2 separate regions of the Homo sapiens genome follow, and region 1 is reported to be linked to region 2. The links are microRNA targets in miRTarBase. Many come from high-throughput screens and were not tested one by one. Region 2 holds a microRNA gene; the other region holds the end of a gene's coding sequence.

Evidence for each region. The annotated mature microRNA hsa-miR-346 reads UGUCUGCCCGCAUGCCUGCCUCU and lies in region 2 at 1,787-1,809, opposite strand. An mRNA with a match to its seed (bases 2 to 7 or 8) in the 3' UTR can be bound and repressed. Matches are read on the target gene's strand: a 7mer-m8 pairs with bases 2 to 8, a 7mer-A1 pairs with bases 2 to 7 and ends in A, and an 8mer does both.
Region 1: the mRNA of AFDN is a reported target of hsa-miR-346. The part of its 3' UTR that is shown has no 7-base or 8-base seed match.

What each region holds. Positions count from the first base shown.
Region 1 is chr6:167,969,467-167,975,039 of GRCh38, forward strand. It overlaps AFDN (afadin, adherens junction formation factor), which reads left to right. Exons shown (of 34, transcript NM_001386888.1): 34 at 316-2,557. The coding sequence ends at 469. Among named protein-coding and RNA genes, the nearest start is that of HGC6.3, 7.5 kb to the right of the region's middle.
Region 2 is chr10:86,262,961-86,265,960 of GRCh38, forward strand. MIR346 (microRNA 346) reads right to left here and starts at 1,828; the gene lies at 1,734-1,828. The region is part of intron 2 of GRID1 (glutamate ionotropic receptor delta type subunit 1); the gene reads right to left. RefSeq lists enhancers at 1-969, 1,347-1,847.

The sequences.
Region 1 (5,573 bases), not on the chromosome of region 2:
CTGTATTTTAAAACTGTACCCCTCAGGTTACACTTAACTGGTAAGAGTCACCTGCTTGCTAAAATCTAACTTACAAGTTTTTTGAGAGTTGACTATGACTGGGAAAAGTTAATGTTGTAGCCAAGAGAACATGTTGCCCTTTTTTTCTAGATGGGTTTAAATACAGCCCCTGTGATTTCGATTATAAGAAAGGTTATAGCACAATTTAACAAAGAATGAGTGAAAATTTTAATCGCCCATTTTGCAAACGTGTGTAATTGTTGACAGGTTGTTTCTAGTTTGTCCAGTAATCTTTGATATTGCCCTCTTCTGCAGCCAAGATGCAGATTCACCTGGAAGTTCTGGGGCCCCTGAAAACTTGACATTCAAGGAACGCCAGCGTCTTTTTTCACAAGGTCAAGATGTATCCAATAAAGTGAAAGCTTCTCGTAAATTAACAGAACTGGAGAATGAACTGAACACAAAGTGAAAGAAAATGAGGAGAACACTTTGTATTTACCCCAAAATCTTTTCAGTTGTGGGTTTGTAGGTGCGAGTTTGAAGAGGAAAAGAGGAAGGGGGTTATATTTCTAAGTGATTTACAATTTCTGTTTCTAAAATTGTTGGGATTTAGAAATGTTTCAATTCCAAGAAATTTTATTTTACTTTACCATGAGATTGCCATTTATGTAATTTAAACACTGTCTAGTTTCTTAATTATCTAACTCACACGAGGGTAAGTTTTTTGTTGGTTTCTTTTTTGGAGTCCTGAGTTCAAAGGGGACAGAACTAAGGGCAGGAGAAGAGAATGGATGTGTCTTCTCTCCCATCTTCCCCTCATCATCGACCGAGGAGCACAAAGAAGTTCTGTTTCTGTTTTTTTCAGAAACTTTATTTTAGCTGTCAAGCAGAGAATAGCTTGAACTATTCAGACTATTGTTGGCACTGTTTAGTAGTGACCACACGCTCTTCTACCCGGGAAGGAACATATGACGACATGCTCCTCCCATGTCCCCTGATGGTGTCTGTTCCCACAATATCCTTCTAGTCTGCATCGTGAAGTGGCTTAGGCCAAAGCTTCCTGTGTGATGACGCACGTCCGAGACTGTTCCATCTCATTCCTCGCAAATTTGAGCTCTTCTGATCAATTCTAAATATTTGATTAATTTTAATTCTGAAAGAAAATTTTGAGGATTTAAGCTTAGGGGATTTTATTTTTATAAATACCAGATTATTGTTAGACTTAATAAATCACTGTTAAATTTAAAGATGACAGTTACCTTGGAAAGTTCACTAATACTTCGCTCCAAGGCGTCTGTAAAAGAAGATATCTTTATTGGAGCAATGTTCATGTGACTGGGAATGACAGAAGAATGGGAGATGAGTAGGGACCCCTCAAGCACAGCTGTCACTCAGAAATTTTAAATTTGAAAAAGAAATCGATTTTCATCTGTATGCCGTCAAGGAAGGAATTCAGTTACAGGGCATCTGTAACTTAAATATTGTAAGAATAACTCATATGGAAGTTCAAGCTATTTTTATACTATAATAGAGTTATTTAATTTTAATTTGTTGAATTATTAGTTACCACTGTCATTTCTTCAGCTATGGATATGTGGCTGATGTTGGGGAGACGGACCTCAGTGTGTTTTATATTGTCTGGTGTTAAGATGATAAATTACTTTGTGATTACAAGCAAATTTTCTATTTGACAAAGCCCTTGGTGGAGTCCAAATGATTTTTCTGTACCATATTGTTCTCTTACACATACGTATGTTAGGAAAATAGGCACACTTTCAAAGAGAATGTTCTCTTACACATACGTATGTTAGGAAAATAGACACATTTTCAAAGAGAATGTTCTCTTACATATGTTAGGAAAATAGGCACACTTTCAAAGAGAGGTATAGGGGCTTTTTACTGCCTTCGAAATCACTTTTAATAAAAGTTGTATGATAAATCATTAAAAATGCGAGTGTAAATATTTTTTTTTACCTCTATCAGGGTTTTTATTTGAAAGTGTGCTCTTACCATTTCCTTGTTTGAGTAAGAGAGTGAATGGTTCTGAGTGTTTAGGAAGGATTTGCTTGCTTGCAGCAGAAGTTCTAGGAAAAGCAGGCACCTCCCAAATATCTTGAGGACACTGGCAGCCTTATGGTGACTAAATCCACACTTTCTTTAAAGAGATGCAGATGAATTACTTTTCTGTTAATATATAGAAAAATACACAGGAGAACATGCAGATACATGTAAATATCTACATACAGGGATATTTGTATGTGTGGTTGTGAAACCCATACACAAGTGGATTTGGCCATCTTTGGGCAGTGAGGTCAAATGTGAATATGTGTAAAAGTGCTTTTCAGAACTGCATTACTATGAGAAAACATCAAAACTGCTGTAGTTTTCCATTTCTACTGTATTTCAGTTGCAACCTATTTTTAATAAACTTTGTATGTATTTAAGTGTATTTGCTATTGTTTTGAAAGTGCTGACAAAGTTTATATTTGTAACATCAGCCTTCCTCGCCCATCTCTTTCCATCTGTCTCTTCTTCATTAAACACTTACTGAGTATGATTTCTGTGTCAGGCAGTGGTTTTCATTTGTGGGGACGTGTCGTGTGCCTCGTCACACAGCTCACGGGTGGTGTCTGAGTCTCATAAGCCGTTCTGCTGCCCAGGCCTTCCTGATGCTTCCTTGATCCCAGCAAGCTTAGGTGGGCATTCGAGCCATTTCTCAGTGACACTGTCTCTTGGTGGCCCCTTTGAAATAAAATATCCGTAGTAATAAGTAAATGGTGTACATAAGGCATCCTGGTGAGAAGCGTCCTAGTGCAAGAACCCACTCGGGACGGCCTCGTGTAAAAGGGTGTGTTTGATTGTAAAACTACACAAGTCACATTGTGAGGACCTGGGAGCTGCGGGAGGCCTGGGCATGTGCGGGCGGGACCTTCTGTGTGGACAGGGCTCAGCGCTGCCTCTGCGCCATCTCCTGCCTCTGCCTATTTCCAGTGGACCTTTTAATGGCCTGTGAGCAGGGGGATGGGACAGGGCAGGGATGGAGAATTTTTAGAGCTTTCATGGGGGGAGAAAAGGATGGGAAGTTGTTGGTTGAAGGATGCAAAGTTTCAGATAGACAAAAGGAATAGGTTTTCAGATCCATGTGCTGCACAGCAGGGTGACTGTAGTCCATGTATTGTAAAAATAAGGACGTTCATGAAGGAAGGAGTGTGTCTTAGGGTTGTAGAAACTTGTGGAGACCTTTTTGATAGAACGAGATGTTTGTGTATTAGAACTATAGTATTCACTTTTACTATATTTTAATGCTTGAAAGGGGACTTTAATGTTTGGGAATACAAAAACTTAGGAAGTCTGAGTATTATTACAGATTCCTTTTTCTCCTCAAGCCTTGTGTTTCTGTTGCTGTCAGTGGAAATAATGGTACTGCCCTACAGTGGTCTGTCATACGGACCAGCAAGCACTTGATCATTTTCTGGTGTGCGCCGTTGGACACAATTTCCTCTATCCTTTATTGAGTGGAAAACTGATTTCAAAGATTTAGTTATATTTAGTAAACATTAAGCAAAATTTAATTCGAGTGACTTGGAGGAGGGAAAGGATGTACAAAAAGTGATAGTTTTGTTATTTCCAGTATTTCATCCAGTTTATTCCAAAAATCACATAACCTCAAAAGAGACATACTAGACTTGAGATTGGGAATTGAAGCTAGTTTCTTGTTTAATTCAGCAGATGTTTATGGGAGCCTGCGGGTGCCTCCTGCCTCAGTGATGGTGACGGGTCTCACAGCGCTTACCTGCTGTCCTGAAACAGCGTGGCTCTGCCCCCAGGGAGCATCACTCCAGGAGGCAGCAGCACATGTTCCATTTACATATGCAGATACATAGTAACTGTTAACAGTAAAGAAGTGCAGGGGACACCTGGAGGTCTAATAAAGTTCCTGGGAGATGGTAGGCTGTTTTGAGAAAGTGATGATCTTGAGAAGCCTTGCAGATGGAAGGAGAAGCCTGAGGCAGATAAGCTGGAACCTCAGGAAGATCAGGGGAGCCCAGAGCCAGAGCCCCAGAACAGGAGGGTGCAGGCAGGGGCTGGAGAGAGCCAGGGGCCACCTGGCACTACCCGGTGGTAAAAGAGTGTATTTTCTAAGACCATGGCAGGAAATGTGACTTGTTTTCTTCACGCAGTGCAAAGCCTCTGCAGGGTTTCTAGGAGGGGCTGGGGCCACCCAGGTGATGTCAGTGGCTGTCGCTCTGGTTGCCGGGATGGGAGGGGAAGGAATGGAAGCCCGGAGCAGGCTCCTGCAGGAGTTGGAGGCTTTGAGGAACCAGATGGTGGTGTGGCCACCCAGATAGGAGAGCATGGAGGCATGGGCTGGGGTGGGCACAGGTAAGCTCTAGAGTTGTTTGCATAGCTACAGAGATGCCAAAGAACAGATTAGAAAAGAGGACAAAACTCAGCTTGGCTTTCAAACAAATTGGTAACCATGGCTTTCTGTTTGAAAACTACTTTCACATGTCTTCAGTGGGTTAGATCTTATTTTTCTCTGCTCTTCTAAATCTTACGTTTTATTCTTTTATAGGGACTACAGGCTTAAATGAATGTTAAATTGGAGACAGTGGTTCCAACTTCAACTTGGAACTTTTAAAAATGATTATAAGATATTAAGTAATCTAAGCCCAAAGAGAGACCTGGGAAACCATAGAGTCAATTGTATGGCTTTAAAAATGTTCCACCTTCCTCCCGTCAATCTTTTTTGTATGAGAATAGATCCCAAAATATAAAAACAGCCTAGTTCAGTTGAGCAAAATACGTACCATGTTCTGAACAGGCGAAGCATAGCTAGGGAGTCTCGGGACTTTGGGTTTGTCTGATTTCTGTAACTGCCATTACCTAAATATTGGAAAATTGCTGACATCGATGCAGAGACTGTCCAGAGCCCTCTAAGTCTTTGTGGACAAAGAGTGACTTATTTAATGAAGCAGCCTCTCCTTCCTGTGATGTGAGATGTTTATTTCTCTTTCCAGTTTTTTAATTATACGTCACCCATCGCAGACTAGGCACCCATAAATATTTGTTGGGTAAATTCTTCTCAATCTGAAGTCTAGTATGTATCTTTGGGGTTGTGTGACTTTTTGGAATAAACTGGATGAAATCGTGGAATTAAAAATTCACTTTTTGCATATACTTTCCCTCCTGCAAGTCATCCAGTTACATCTTGCTTAGTGTTACTAAATATAACTTTCTGAAATTAGCTTTCCATGCAAGAAAACATAGAGGAATGCTATCTTCAGTACAGTAGACGGATTGCTCACAGACAGCTGGAGGCTGCAGTCTATAAATGATTTGATCAGATCTCTCTCAAGAATTCTTGTAGCAAGACAAGAAAAGGGATTGGTGGAATACAAACAAAAATAGGAAATGAAGGAAGAGGAGAGTGCAAAGGTGAGGACCACACAGGCCGACTGCATTGCGAGGCCGTGCTGCGCGGGGAGGCTGGGTACCACATACCAGTTGCATGTATTCAGAAGAGGAGCAAGACGCAAGCACCTTCCGGAGGGAATTTGTCTCAGCCTCAT
Region 2 (3,000 bases):
CGTTTGTGGGAAACCAGGGCTCAGCGCGCTGGGAGGGAGTCAATTTATTCTGGAGAAAACATCTTTGTTCTGCGAGTGAAGGGGAGCCATTTCCAACAATTTAATGCTCTGTTCGCGGGCCCGGGTGCTGGGGTTGCAGCACGAGGCTTGTTCTTCGAGGCAGAGCCGCACATAATGAGGCTTCTCACTACTGCTCCCCGTCATCGTGCCAAAAACCAGAACGGTTATTTATCCATTAATCTGACATTACACCCCCTGCATTTTATCTGCTTAAATAAATTTGGTGGTTAGAGTGTGTGCCTGGCGGAGAAGCTCCCGCATTCAATTCCCTTCGCGCCACGGCGCGCAACGTTGCCATTGTAAACCGGCCTTGGAGTGGCGGGGCCGCGGTGGGCCAGCTGGGAAATGAGACGGCAGCGGGGAGGATCCCGCCTCTCCCAGCTCGTCAGAATCCAGGCCCAACGGGACGGTTCCCCAGACACTGACTTCGGGGTTCCAGCGTGCAGCACCAAGTCACGTGGGCGCCGTGGCCTTTCACCTGCAGAACAAGCCGCCCCCTTCGCCAGCACCTACAGGCAGCGAGAACAGAGGCCAAACCCCGTCCTAGACCCCACTGCCTGGGCTGGAATCCTGCTGTGCCACTCACTAGTTGTGGGACCTTGAGATGTCACCTCACCTCTGATGCCTGTTTCCCCACCTCCCTCCCCCTCGGGTTGTGAGAATTGAGTCACTATTTATAAAGTGCTTAGAACAGTGCCTGGTACATATCAAGTGCTCAATAAGAGTTGGTTTTAAAATATTAATTTTTAAAATCTAGGACAATTGTTTATGTTTGGAAGTAGGCTTTGGAGATGGGCTAGACCACTGGGTTTCCCCACCTCAACCCACTTCACTAAGTTAAGAAAAGTGGGTTTCATGGAATATTTCATTTGAACAAAGAGTGCCACTGCTTGAAAATATTTGGCTCACATTTTGCAGAGGAGCAAACAGAAAGCCAGAGAGGGGAAGGGACTTGTCCAGGAGCCTCTGCAAGTTCACAGCAGAGCTGGGAGCCGAATCCAGGCTGCCCACCTGCCGGGTCAGGTGTTTTATTGGCAGCATGAGCTCCTGGGATGTTCATTCACCTCATTTTCATTGCCAGTCACGCTGACCCACAGAAGGTACTGCTGGGCACCCTCCTCTCCCATCCCAGCAGCTGCAGTACCACCCCACGCTGGAGCTAAGAGCCCAGCCCCACCAACAGGTGAGACCCATGACCCTCAGACTTCAACACGCCCCACTCTGGAGCCTGGCCAGGCCTTTTCATTTGTCCTTCATTTGTTCTTTCCTATCATCCTCTGGTTCTCTACAACATTTCCTTGGCCCGGAAACTTGCTGGAACTTCCTGCCTGTCCTCCCTACATCTGTCTGCCCCTTGTACCCTGTACCCCTGCCCCATAGGCTGGAGACTACCCCAGAGGGAGGAATCCCACCACCACTCAGTCCCTTGGATGTGGGCCCCCCTTGGAAGCAGTTTTGCCCAGCTCAGATCCAGCCTGAGCTCACCACACTCTCTAGGAGCCCATTCCTGAACACCTCCCAGAGGCTGGCCACTCCACCTGGAGAGCAAGGTTTCCACAATCTTCTCTGGCTCAGGAGGGCCTGGCCTGATGCCCCACGCTGACTGTGGAGGTAGGTTGGGAGCGAAGTGGTGAGTCTGTAACCAGAGAGAAGAGCCATGTCCCATGCAGGAGCCGCTCTGCCCAGGCAGCTGCAGGCCCAGCCCCTGCCTCCTTCAGAGCAACAGAGAGGCAGGCATGCGGGCAGACAGACGCCCAACACAGAGACCTCCCACACGCTCGTCTGTGTCACCGCCGCCCCTTCCTGGTTGGCCCTGCAGACGAGGAAGCCCTCCAACCTGCAGCCAAATTCACTCCTTGCTGACAAGAGGCTCCTAGAGGAGAAGGGCTACTCCCCGGCCCCCAGGAAACTCTCTGAACATAGCTATCTGCCATCAAGGCCTGGATCAGCCAAGCAGGAGCTGCACTTGCCCAGCCTTTTCCTTCCTAGCCACACTTAAGCAAGACAAGTGGCATGGGCACGGAGAGGCTCCCCTGGCCACACACTGGGCAGGGACAGACCTGGGCTACTCATCCTTTCTGAGCAGCTAGCCTGGCCCAGGCCTGCAGACTGAGTGGCCCACCCTGCCCGGCCCCCCATAGGCATGAGCTCCCATACCCCCACCTCAGGCATGGTTCCATTATAACAAATTATCCTCGTTCACCTCCCACTCCACTTCTCTGACGGCTCCCTCTCTTGACTCTTGTCCTGCCTTTGTCCCATCCTTGCCCCCGACCGATGGCTGCTATTGCAAAAGTGATCCGAGTTCTGAATTTCAGCAGCATTTGATCATTTCAACTGGACCCAGCCCTGATAACCTGTGCCAGGCACTGTGCCAAGTGCTTTAAAATCTAGGACTTAATTAGGTATGACCCTTCTATTTTACAGATGAGGACACTGAGGCTTGCCCACAGGCATAGAGCTATTAAGTGGCCCAGCGTGGATTTGAATCCAGATGTGTCTGAATCCAGAGCCCCAGGTCTTACCACCAGCCCTGCCACGTGGCTGGCACACCCACAGATGTGTTCTCACCCCATGAGTAAAATCAGACACTCATTCTTGCTCTTGCAGCCATAGAGGTTGGAGGGAAGAGGGCTGAGCCCCTCAGGGGATGGTTTCTGCAAGTTCTGTTCAGGGATCTGTCTTCCTTCAGTGCCACTAACACTCACCTGTCATTGCAGGCAAGAGGAAATCAACATTTTACAGCAATAAAAGGCTGCTCCTGGTTAGGCATCAAACGAATCAATCTTCTCTGACAGTTAATTTTCATTTTGCAACTTTCCCCAGCAACAACAGCAAGTAATGACCCTGAGGATCTGCAAAGTCGCTGATCAGCAGCCCAGCCTCCCATACTCCTGACTCATCCACTGCCCTGGCTCAGCCCCTTGCCACCCATGCCCA